Homo sapiens: one gene and its partner. The protein of the gene in region 2 purifies or fractionates together with the protein of the main gene of each other region. This does not show direct contact. Each region holds a gene or a part of one and is shown on either strand. Other genes may lie near its edges.

Region 1 (4,020 bases), on a different chromosome or scaffold from region 2:
TGAGGCAGGAGAATCACTTGAACCCAAGGGACAGAGGTTGCAGTGAGCTGAGATCATGCTACTGCATTCCAGCCTGGGTGACAGAGTGAGACTCCATCTAAAAAATATATATATACATATATTTTTTTCCTCAAATAAATCATAACTTTTAAAATTAGGTTAGAAATATCTATTCAAATTATTTTTAAAATACCATCAAGGCTGGGCATGGTGTCTCATGCCTGTATTCTGAGCACTTTGGGAGGCCAAGATGGGAGGATCACTTGAGGCCAGGAGTACAAGACTAGCTTGGGCAACATAGCAAGACCTCACCTCTATAGAAAATAAAAAATTGGCCAGACATGGTGGCGTGTGCCTCTAGTCCCAGCTACTAGGGAGGCTGAGGTAAGAGGATAATTTGAGCACAGGAGTTTGAGGTTGTATTGAGCTATGATTATGCCACTGCATAGCCTGGGTGACAGAGCAAGACCCTAAAAAAAATTGAATTATAAATTCATTTATGAACTTTGGGAAAATTATTTATTTCTCCCCACGGGGTTCAGACAAGTAATTTCACATTTCATTGTAAGTCAAGGGTAAGAAAACATTTTTTGTACATCCATCACTAATAGAGATCACAGTATGTCAATGAAATATTTAAATACACTGTACAGAGATTGCTTTTTAATGGATTTCTATAAGTAGTATTAATAGGAAAAAGCATATAATACAATCTACTCTGTATCTAAGAGCTTTAATTTATTCAAATATTGGAAGAAATTCATCTTCTGAATTTTTCTTATTTAAAAAGCATTATGAGAACTGATTCAAGGATGGAGGAATCAATTAGTACTCAGCAATTCACAGACATGACATAAACATGACATTTTTAAGACATAAACAAAGACTGCATGTTGGCAGCATAGGGGACAGTCTTGCTCTTCCTCATTTTTTGAAGCAGAGATATTTCATATTTCATAGTTTCTGAACTTCCTCAGGAGTTCTGAGGGAGCATCCTTGGACCAGCGGAAACGAAGGTGCCAACCATTCACATCTGCAAAACCTTTAAAGGAAAGAAAGTAAATATTTAAAATCAGAAGTAGGAAAAGTCGATCTTGTTATAGTAAAACAGCTTGGGGATAATATTTCACTGCAGCAGGTACAATGTAAGGGTAAGACTTTGGTATGAATTATTAACATCTTAGAGAAATGGATTAACTTAAACAGACTGGAATTCTTATGAACACGAATTACAATTTATATGGATGATAAGACCTCACATGCTTAAATACTTAATAAGAGGAAATACATAGATGCCTCTGGTGGTGGGGAATTTGACAATTCACATGCAAAGAAATTTGAAACAAATTACACAGTTTTCAAAAACCTTTCAAAAGTTAAAAGTCAATGGCAAAAGGATCGCTTGAAATACAAGTACTATAATTGAATTCCATGGTAATAAGATTTTTTTTTAGTTATAATAAACAACATTGTTGAAAACCAGAGGAAAAGAAGGTAATTTTCCTTCCCTACTAGAAGTATGAATTAGCAAAACCCCTCTGGCAGGCAATTTGGCAATATTTATCAAACTCGTTAAAATGTATAAACCTTTGCCAGGCGCAGTGGCTCACGCCTGTAATCCCAGCACTTTGGGAGGCCAAGGCGGGCGGATCACGAGGTCAGGAGATCAAGACCATCCTGGCTAACACGGTGAAACCCCGTCTCTACTAAAAATACAAAAAATTAGCCGGGCGTGGTGGCGGGCGCCTGTACTCCCAGCTACTCGGGAGGCTGAGGCAGGAGAATGGCGTGAACCCGGCATGCGGAGGTTGCAGTGAGCCGAGATAGCGCCACTGCACTCAGGCCTGGGCGACAGAGCGAGATTCTGTCTCAGAAAAAAAAAAAAAAAAAGTATAAACCTTTGACCCAATAATTTTACTCCTTGAAATGTATCCTAAGGAAATAATAATGGATGCACCCAACGATTTAACTCTAAGGATGTTTATAATGATACCATTTATAAATTTTTTTTGCAAACCAAGAAACATTCTAAACTTTAGCAAATGAAAGCTGGTTAAAAGGTTTTGATATCGTCATTAACAATATCTTAATATTTACCATTATAGAAAAATGCTCACAGCATATTGCTAAGTGACAGTTAACAAAACTGTTTATATAGTATGATCTCATTCCTAAACTCATTATTTACATGAATATTTATGTGAAATTTTTTTAAGTCTAAAAAAAGAAGGCCCAGCATGGTGGCTCACGCTTGTAATCCTAGCACTTTGGGAGGCCGAGGCAGGTGCCTCTCTTGAGCTCAGGAGTTCGAGACCAGCATAGGCAACATGGCAAAATCCCGTCTCTACAAAAAAATACAAAAAATTAGGCGGGCGTGGTGGTATGTGCCCGTGGTCCCAGCTACTCAGGAGACTAAGACAAGAGGATTACTTGAGCCCCAGAGGGGGAGGTTGCAGTGAGCCGAGAGGGTGCCACTGCACTCAAGCCTGGGTAATAGAGTGACACTCTCTCAAAAAACAAACAGATAAGAAAAGGTACACCAAAATTAATAGTATTTATCCCTGGATTGTTACAATAGATGTGATTTTCCTTTTTTTTTTTTTTTTCCTTTTCTGAAACGGAGTTTCGCTCTTGTTGCCCAGGCTGGAGTGCAATGGCGCGATCTCAGCTCACCACAACCTCCGCCTCCCGGGTTCAAGCGATTCTCCTGCCTCAGCCTCCCGAGTGCTGGGATTACAGGCATGAGCCACCACACCCGGCTAATTTTTGTATTTTTAGTAGAATCGGGGTTTCTCAATGTTGGTCAGGCTGGTCTCAAATTCCTGACCTCAGGTGATCTGCCTGCCTCAGCCTCCCAAAGTGCTGGGATTACAGGCGTCAGCCACCGTGCCCGGCCAATTTTCATTTTTAATACTCTTTTTTGTTTATCTGTACTTTCTTATTTTTCTGCAATAAACATCTATGCTTTTCGTCTTTTTATGTTAATAATATTGCTAATGAAAAAGCAGGTTACAGAATAATATATAAAATACACTTCCATTGATATTTTAATATAGTATATAAATATGTAGTCAGAAAAAGCATATACAGAATAGTTAACAATGGTTATCTCAGAAAAACAGATTACACTGACACTTTTTAAAGAATTATTGGAGAAAACAAATCTGAAGAATTTTCATTTGGGGAAAAAGCAAAAAGGAAATTGTTTCTGATTGCTATAATTGTTCCTATAATTAAAACTTACTCACAAAATATGTACAGTATGATCCTTTTAGATATACTAACACAAATGAAAATATACCAAAATATCGATAATACATATTTCTCTAAATGATAAAATTATGAGTTATATGTTCTTCCTTTTGCTTGATTATATTTTCTCACATTTTATATAGTAAGTAAGTGTCATTTTTGTTTAAAAAGATGTAGTTTCTGGCCAGGTGCGGTGGCTCACGCCTGTGATCCCAGCACGTTGGGAGGCCGAGGCGGGCAGATCACAAGGTTGGGAATTCGAGACCAGCCTGACCAACATGGTGAAACCCCGTCTCTACTAAAAATACAAAAATTCGCTGGGCGTGGTAGCACACGCCTGTAATCCCAGCTACTCAGGAGGCTGAGGCAGGAGAATCACTTGAACCCAGGAGGCGGAGGTTGCAGTGAGCCAGGATCACGCCACTGCACTCCAGCCTGGGCGACAGAGCGAGACTGTCAAAAAAAAAAAAATGTAGTTTCTAGTTAGGGTTCCCGTAGAAATAGACATGCAGACAAGAACTTGAAACAGGTTGGGCACAGTGGCCCACACCTATAATCCCAGCACTTTGGGAGGCTGAGGCCAATGGATCACTTGACCTCAGGAGTTTGAGACCAGCCTGGGCAACATGGCGAAACCCCATCTCTATAAAAAATTAGCCGGATGTGGTGGTGCACACCTGCAGTCCCAGCCATTTGGGGGCGGAGGTGGGAGGATCATCTGAGCCTAGGAGGTCGAGGCTGCAGTGAGTCGTGATCACACCACTGCAC
Region 2 (9,272 bases):
AGTAAGACTCCGTCTCAAGAAAAAAAAAAAAAAAAAAAAAGATATAAGTATTTCTCTCTTCTTCTCCAGCCCATCCCACACCCCTACCTTCCAGCCATCCCTCCTGCAGGCTTGTGGCCAGCCACACTCCACTCCTCACCCTCACCCGAGTGGGTAAGAAGTGGCACCAACCTTGTAGTCATCGCTCGTGGCCGCCTCTGCAGATCCAAAGGTGTTGTAGTTGGCCCAGTTGCCGTCCCCCTCTGGGTAGACTGCTTTGCTGCCCTGCTGACTGGACCAGCGATCGCCCACCGTGCACTTCCCACGCATGTCATTCTCGTGCACGCTGGCCACCAGGGTCCAGCCGCCACCCCCAGAGGTCATGTCACAGAAGGTCTGGTAGATAACACCATTCTCAGTGCGGAGAAAATACAGGCCATCTGTAGAGAGAACCAGCCCAGAGCCTCCCTGTCTGAGAGCTGAGGGTTCATTTCAGCCCCATGACAAGAAAGGCCCTAGGAACCAGAGACATGGCCTAAAGGCTCCTGTCCTGACTCACATCACTAAGTGCTCCCAGGGGTACTGGGGCCTCCCTGAGTTCAGAAGATCATGCTCCTGTAACTGAGGCAGAACATAGAATTGTATAAAATCCCAGTGACATTTTTCATAAAGTTAAACATGGAATTATTGTATGACCCAGCAATTCCACTGCAGGTCTATCCCCAAAAGAATTGAAAACAGGGCCTCAAGCTGATGCTTTTACACCAGTGTTCATTGCAGCATTAGTCACAAGAGCCAAATAGAAGAAACAATTCAAATATTCACCAACAGGTGAATGAATAAACAAAACATGGTGTGTGTGCATATATGTATCTGCAGTGGATAAAAGGGAATGAAATATCCATGCTACAGCATGGACAAACCCTCAAAACACTGTGCTAAGTGAAATAAGCCAGACACCAAAGGACAAATACCATATGACTCCAATTACATGAGGTAACTACACTAGGCAAATTCATGGAGATAGAAAGTAAAATGCAGCTACCAGAGACTGAGGGAAGAGAGTTATTGCTTAATAACTCCATGTTATTTTTTGTTTTGTTTTGTTTTTGTTTTTGTTTTTGAGATGGAGTCTCACTCTGTTGCCCAGGCTGGAGTGAAGTGGCACTATCTTGGCCCACTGCAACCTCTGCCTCCTGAGTTCAAGCGATCCTCCCACCTCAGCCTCCCAAGTAGCTGGAATTACAAACATGTACTCCACACCCAATTGATTTTTGTATTTTAGTAGAGACAGGGCCCCACCATGTTAGCCAAGCTGGTTTCAAACTCCTGGCCTCAACTGATCCACCCCTCTCAGCCTCCTAAAGTGCTGGGATTACAGGCCTGAGCCACCGCACCCGGCCCCTCCATGTTATTAAGTACAGAGTTTCTGTTTGGGGCACTGAAAAAGTTCTGCATATGGATAGCTGTGATGGTTGCACAACCTTGAAGGTAATTAATGCCACTGAATTGCACACTTAATGTTGCTTAAAATGGCAAATCTTATGTAAATTATAATATACATATACTTTACCATAATTTTTTAACTAAAAGACAAAAAGACTCCCAGAAGACACAATCCTGATACCCTGACTGAGCTCTGTTTGAATGTTTCATCACTCACCAAATGCACTAGGACATTCGTCTTTGATTTCCTTGCAGCTTCTGGGCAGAGATGGAGACGAAGAACAGGTCCATTCCTTGAAGTAAGTATTAGCCTCATCTAGGGAATACACAGGGTTTATTCTCATTCCCGGTTTGACACAAAACCTACCCTCTCCTATCACTAGTCCCACGCTCATTCCACCACTGTAGCAGAACCTCGCTGCCCGGGTGGTAAGGCCTGAGACAGCCAGTGTCATATCCACTCAGCCCATCAGTGTCACATCCACTCAGCCCATCGGCATCATATCCACTCAGCCCATCCGACCTGACAGCCAGCACAGGCTTAAAGTCTGCCTCCCGCCACAAGACCTGTCCTTGTGCTGGGTCCTGCCCTAAGCACTGAGTAATCAAAGACATTAAAGTTCCCCAGCAAGAGCTTGCCTCTAGAGGGAATTGCTAACAAGTCAACAGAAAATTGTATTGACAAGAATAAATGGTAGAAGAAAGGCAAACTCAAGAGAACAAAAGAAAGACTCTGAGGTAACAGTGGAGAATGGAAACGCCAGACAGTAAGCGGGGCAGTTGCCTGGGAGAAGAAGGCAAGACGGGTTGTCTCATGTCTTAGTCACAGAAGACCTTCCAGTCCAGGTGACATCTTAGCTTATTCTGAGAGAATAAACATGATTTATCAGTAGGAAGCCAATCCAAGGCAGGGAAAACAGCATATCCAAAGGCCTAGAGAAAAAAAAAAAAATACAGCGTAGTCCAGCTGTAGAACTACAAGCTGCTTAATATGGCTGAAACATGGGGTGTGAAGTAGGGAGTGGTGAGACTAATCTCTACTCCAAAAAGTCTGCAAACTATTCGAACAGTCTAGGGGAAAGCTGTGAGGTCAGAGGTGACTGACCTCAGTTTCCTCATACCTAAAACACAGTTAATAAACAGTGCTTTTGCAAAGATGAAGTAAGAAGATATTTCGAAACAGCCTTTTCTTTAAAAAAAAAATTTTTAGACGTGAAGAAAAATATAAATTTTAAAATGTCATTGTTATTCTTGTTGTAGAGAGGAAAACTGTGGAGAGAACATTCTCCAGGCACAAAGCAGACCATGTAGTTCCCATGGAAATCCCACAGCCAAGGCCACAGGAGTGGGCAGTGGCTGGAAGGTGACACAGTTCTTGCCACAGCCCCCTCAGGGCCACACAAAAGCACAGAGCCTGGACCCAGGACATGCCTCAAGCAATACCTTCACTGCCACAGGCCAGATTCCGCCAGAGACCAGAAATCGGCACTCAGTCTACATGCAAGCCAGCCGCTGTGCATCTCAAGGACATGCTCTGTGTCCTGGGAGAGACCAGGATCCCGGAAGTCATCCAGCTGAAGGAACTGCTGTCCCTAGCAGCGTGACTCACCTGTACTCCATCCTCTGGTGGTCGCTATGAGAAACAGCAGGAAGCTGAGTTGGTTCATTGTAATCTAAAGAAAGCAAGATGAAGGTCACCATCTTGGCCATCATTTTTCTCTACATCCCTGCCCCACCCCTGTCCAGTCTTACAAAGACTCCAAAACCCCTTGCCTTTTGTTTAAACTTCACACATCTCTGAGACCAAAAGCAGACCTAAGCTGAAAACAGGATTCCCCCAACTCACAGACCTTGTCTGAGTCTCAGCTGCACTTTCCTTGGGTACAGAGAGCTCCTTCACTCCCTCCCTCCACTGCGCCCTGGAGCTCAACAGAGTGCAGCTTTCTCCAAAAACGCTCCTGATGTGGAATGAGGTGCAGAAAGCTTTATGGAGGAAGCCCAGTGGGGCCAACCAAGGTTTCCAGCCTCACCCTCCCCTGGCACAATGCCCAGTGCAGGGGAGGCTTCTGGTTATCTCGGGGAGGTTATTTATACAGTGGAATTAACAGGTTCTAAAGAAAAAACCAATCCTAAGAATCACCTGCTAGCGTTGTTCCTGGATCTGGGGGTTTCATGGACCTGTGTCAAGTAGGAAGTAGACGAAGAGATTAACAAGAGTTGGTGTTGGTTTTGGGTTTTTGTGCCTTTCTTTCTTGCAAAATAAAAACTTTCTCTAAATTAAGCATCTGTTGGCTTGGCACATTGGCTCAAATCCCAATACTTTGGGAGGCCAAGGCAGAAGGATCACTTGAACTCAGGAGTTTGAGACCAGCCTGGGCAACATAGGGCAACCTCTTCTCTACTAAAAATAAAAGTAAAAAAATTAGCATGGCATGGTGGTACTTGCCTATAGTTTCAGGTGGGGCTGAGGCAAGGCAAAAGGGTAACTTAAGTCCCAGAGATAGAGGATTCAGTGAAATATGACCGTGCCACTGTACTTCAGCTTAGGTATCTCAAAATAAATAAATAAATGAAATTAATCATTGGCCATAATTATCAATTCATAGAAATAGAAAAAGGAAATTTTAACAAAATGGGAAAGTGATCATTTCTGAATAAATTGGTAAAAAGGAATGGAGGGGAAAGAGATACAAAACACACAAAAAAATACGAATAGAAAAGTTTTAAAAAATATATAAATCTTTAGTTTGAATAATTTAGTTTCACACAAAGACTCACTACTTTGTCTTTAATTTTGTCATTTTGCCACAAACGAGGGAAAATTTACTACAGGATTCATTTGAAACTGAATCAATACGAAACCTCTCTGCTGCTTCGAACCTCCTGTCTTATTCCTGCTCCTATGTCATGAAGTTCTCAAATGCTACCCTGCAGCTGTAATAGAATTACTCAGTTCTTCCCCAGTGATATCATACATTTAATACATAATGTCATTATAGCATTAATAATACTGCAACCTTTTCTTACAAAGATTGTGAATATCTTTTTTGTTAAGCTAATATTTCCTATTTGTTGGTTCAAAGTACTGATTTGCAAAAAATACTCACATATTGATAGAAGAAAATAAAATAGCACCCAAGAAGAAAAACTGCAAAAAAAAGTTATACTTTTGTAAATTTAAAATCTATTAGAAGCTATTTGCTCTGTGTATCTGGAAAATAATTAATTAAATAAAATTAAATGTATTAGAAACTAAATTAACTCATCAGTATAGGTAACAAAATGAACATACCCAGCTTTCATATTTACAAACAACAACCTCTTAGAAATAGAGGTCTCAGCCAGGCGCTGCGGCTTACACCTGTAATCCCAGCACTTTGAGGGGACGAGGGTGGCCAATCACTTGAGGTCAGGAGTTCAAGACCAGCCTGATCAACACGGTGAAACCGTGTCTCTACTAAAAATATAAAATTAGCTGGGCACGGTGTCAGGCGCCTGTAATCCAAGCTACTCGGGAGGCTGAGGCAGGAGAATTGCTTGAACCCGGGAGGCAGAGGTTGCAGTGAGCTGAGATCGCACCATTGCACTCCAGCCTGGGCAACAAGAGTGAAATTCCATCTCAAAAAAAAAAAAAAAAAATAGAGGTCTCTAAGTTTACAGTTCACAATAGTAAATACATGTATATAAAGTTAACACCAAGGGCCCAAGATCTAGAGAAAAAAATTAAACATCCCCTCAGTTGTTCATTACTGTGTGTAACTAACCACCTGAAAACTTTATGGCTTAATAAAACAGTAACATATTTGCAAAAATAAAAAAAGAAAATATACACTTATACTACTTTCTTTAGTTGATTCTAAGACACTTTTTTTGTATTTTGACATCTTTAATATCATTATGCATCTCATCCTTAATGGTACATGATGCCATCTAATAGACTGGGAAAACAGTACATCCATTTTAAGGACATTACCCCTTCTAACCATCATCATCCAATCAGTGATTGCGTCCCATTGATTCTACCCCTACTTCCTCTTGAATCTGTTCCCCACACAACTTCCTCCAAACCCCACTGCCCTGGACATTTATTTAGTTCAGTCTGGTTCCTTGTAGCTGTAACTAATAGAAACCCCATCTCAAAGTGGCTTTTCTAAAAAGTAAATCTATTACCTCATGAAATAGAAAATCGAGAGAGAGGGCAAGATCCAGGCTTGCTTGACAGCAGCTTCTCTTTATTTTATTTTATTTATTTATTTATGTTGAGACAGGGTCTCACTCTGTTGCCCAGGCTGGATGGAGTGCAGTGACACAATCTCAGCTTACTGCAGCCTCAACCTTCCAGGCTCAGGTGATCCTCCCACCTCAGCCTCCCAAGCACCTGGGAATACAGGCACACACCACCACACCCTGCTAACTTTTGTATTTTTGGTAGAAACGAGTTCTCACCATGTTGGCCAGGCTGGTCTCGAACTCCTAGGCACAAACAATCCTGCCTCAGCCTCCCAAAGTGCTGAGAGTATAGGTACGTATGTGACAGTATAGATGTGCATGAAGATAGAAGAGTGTGGAAGAAAGCCCCTCACCACCAACTCACTCCAGCCCCACATCTACATCTCCAGTGACTTGGAGAAGGTTTGTTGTAAAATTACACATACAGAGAAAGATATAAAACATTAAATGTGCAGTTTAATAAATTACAAGAAAGGCAAATACCTGTGTAATTATCATCCTAGCTAAGAAATGAAACTTTAGCAGCACCCAGAAGCTTCCCATATGCTGCTTCCAGATAACAGACCTCTCCCTTCCCAAAGGTAATTACTGGCCTGACTGTGATGGAAATCAGCACTTCCTTGTGCCCATACCACATTGTTCCAAATATTTTAGATTGATAAAATGTCTTGATATCCAGTAGAGCAAGGCTTCTCACTTTGCTCTTCTTTTTTGGTTATTCTTGGTCGTTTACCTCTACACATACACACACACACACACACACACACACACACACACACATGCACACACCCTTTAGGATTTTATTGGAATTACATTGAATCTATAGATCATTTAGAAATAATTTACGTCTTTAAAATATTGAGTGTGGCCTGTTTCTTCATTTATTTGTGTTTTTATTGCTTTTTCGTATCTTATAGCTTCCTTATAGGGATTTTGTGTATGATTTGCTATTTGTTCCTTAGTATTTGACTTTTTTTTTCTTTTTTTAGACAGGGTCTCACTCTGTCACCCAGGCAAGTGATTCTCCCACCTCAGCCTCCTAAGTAGCTGAGAACACAGGTAAATATCACCACGGCCAACTAATTGTTTTATTTTTTGTAGAGATGGGATCTCACTATGTTGCCCAAGCTGGTCTCAAACTCCTGGGCTCAAGCAATCCTCACACCCTTGGCCTTCCAAAGTGTTGGGATTACAGGCGTGAGCCACCATGCTGGCAGTGTTTGACATTTTTGATGCTATTATAAATGCCATATTTTTGAAATTTTATTTTCTAATTGTTTGATGCTTATATATAGAAATACAACTGATTTCACAAATATATATATATTTGTGAGATATATATATATTTGTAAGATATATATATATCTCAATGACAGCACAGGAAAGACAAAGTATCAAAATAAATATAAATTTTCAGCTTGAATAAATTTAGTTTTATGAAAAATAATATTTTTTCTTACTTTTCTCATTTTGCTACAAACCAATGAAAACACTCTTTTGGTGGGGGGTCATTCTAGAGTAGCACTGGCCCCCAGACTACATTTTGGAATCACTGATCCAGGACAAACTTCCTCTGATGCTTCAATACCTGCTTTGCCATTTCTGTCCCAGTGTCACTCCTCAATTTCCTGAGCATAAATGTCACTCATGCCTCTTCTCCCTCAACAATGGGATGGATCACTTCCTGCCCGGTGTTGCCACATCCCTTATGCCCATTATTATCTTAACACGATAACATGACCTTTTCACTGTTTACATGTTTCTCACAGCAGTTCTTAAGAAAAGGTTTATGAGGCACCATATTTGTTAAGCTAATACTTTATTTGTGGAGAGAAAATATTGAACTATATATTTTCAGATATATTAACAAAAGGAAATAGACTGTATCTAGGTCCAAGACAAATATTCGATTTTTTTTTTTTTTTTTTTTTTGAGACATGGTCTTGCTCTGTCACCCAGGCTGGGGTGCAGTGGTACAATCATGGCTAATTGCAGCCTTGACCTCCTGGGCTCAAGCGATACTCCCACCTCTGCCTCCTGAGTAGCTGAGACTACAGGCACATGCCACCACACCCAGATAATTTTCTAATTTTTTTTAGAGATGGGGTCTCACTATGTTCCCCAGGCTGGTCTCTAACTCCTGGGCTCAAGTGATTCTCCCACCTCATTCTCCCAAAGTGCTGGGATTATAGGTGTGAACCACTGTGCCCAGTCCAAATAAAATTTATGCTTCTTATAAAACTATGTCTAACACTTTCATATCTCTGATATTGAGTGCATCCTTCATTCAATGGCATATCATAGTTTGTATTTCATCTTGAGTGGTACATAAAACAATGGTGCATTTTATACCTTAGATTTGGTGAAAAAATGCTAGCTCTGACATTAGCATAGAGTTGGTACTCTGAAATGAGAACTCCCTGCAAGCCCATAGGCTTGAGCTCCAATCCAAGATCATGTACTAGACATGTGACATTGGGCAAACCACTTCATCCCTCTGGACTTCAGTTTTCATGCAGTAAAATGTGAATAACAAGGCCAGGTGCGGTGGCTCATGTCTGTAATCCCAGCACTTTGGGAGGCGAAGGCAGGCAAGTCACTTGAGGTCAGGAGTTCGAGACCAGCCTGGCCAACATGGTGAAACCCCATCTCTACCAAATAATATAAAAAGTAGGTGGCTGTGGTGGTGCGCAACTGTAATTCCAGCTACTTGGGAGGCTGAGGCAGGAGAATTGCTTGAACCCAGGAAGTGGAGGTTAGAGTGAGCTGAGATCTCGCCACTGTGATCCAGCCTGGACAATGCAGCAAGATTCCATCTCAAAAAATAAAAATAAAAATGTGAGTAACGAGCTCTACCTCACAGGACTGTTGTGAGGAGTGAAATGACAAGAGCAAAATGAGAATGTACATGAATATGTGAAAGGTGTGATTATCATTAAGAAAGATTATCTCAAAAACCTGGATTTCTCTTTACTACCACTGCCATCAGCAGCTCACCTCAGCTGGGAAGCCCCAAACTCAATCAACAGGTGTGTATAGCACCCATATTTTATTCTTCATGGATTTTTTACTTTCCTATTTGGCCTGTGCAAAAGCCCCCTTGCTTTACATAAGCCCTTCTGCTACATACTAAGGTATACTTACACACTGCATTGCTTATGTGAGGATTCAGAAGATATTTATTGAAAGACAGAATGATAAAATGTTTACAACTCCAAGAATAGACCTGAAGTGGACCTATAACCAGGGTCTGCTAGAGATTAAATGATTAAATGAAAGTGTTTGGTATTCTAGGAGACTGCTAGAACCAAATTTAAAAAACAAAATCCCAACATGCTTTCATGTTAAAAGCCCTCAACAAACTAGGCATTGAAGGAACATACCTCAAAATAATAACAGCCATATATGACAAACCCACAGCCAACATCATATGGAATGGGCAAAAGCTGGAAGCATTCCCCTTGACAACCAGAACAAGACAAGGATGCCCACTCCCACCACTCCTATTCCACATAGTGCTGGAAGTCATAGCCAGAGCAATCAGGCAAGACAAAGAAGTAAAAGGCATCCAAATAGGAAAAGAGGAAGTCAAACTGTCTCTGTTTGCAAACAATATA

The links. Proteins that work in one complex are often made in the same cells at the same time.
Region 1: the proteins of ITLN1 (region 2) and DNAJC12 purify together in Homo sapiens (affinity purification with mass spectrometry; 3 studies listed by BioGRID and IntAct, with this or other methods). This does not show direct contact.

What each region holds. Positions count from the first base shown.
Region 1 is NC_000010.11:67,796,169-67,800,188, forward strand, and holds the end of DNAJC12 (dnaJ homolog subfamily C member 12), read right to left. Parts: intron 1,043-4,020; coding exon 948-1,042; 3' UTR 501-947; downstream 1-500. UniProt on the Homo sapiens protein: Probable co-chaperone that participates in the proper folding of biopterin-dependent aromatic amino acid hydroxylases, which include phenylalanine-4-hydroxylase (PAH), tyrosine 3-monooxygenase (TH) and peripheral and neuronal tryptophan hydroxylases (TPH1 and TPH2).
Region 2 is NC_000001.11:160,881,786-160,891,057, forward strand, and holds the start of ITLN1 (intelectin-1 precursor), read right to left. Parts: upstream 3,396-9,272; 5' UTR 3,276-3,395; intron 3,099-3,275; 5' UTR 3,093-3,098; coding exon 3,035-3,092; intron 1,742-3,034; coding exon 1,643-1,741; intron 420-1,642; coding exon 172-419; intron 1-171. UniProt on the Homo sapiens protein: Lectin that specifically recognizes microbial carbohydrate chains in a calcium-dependent manner.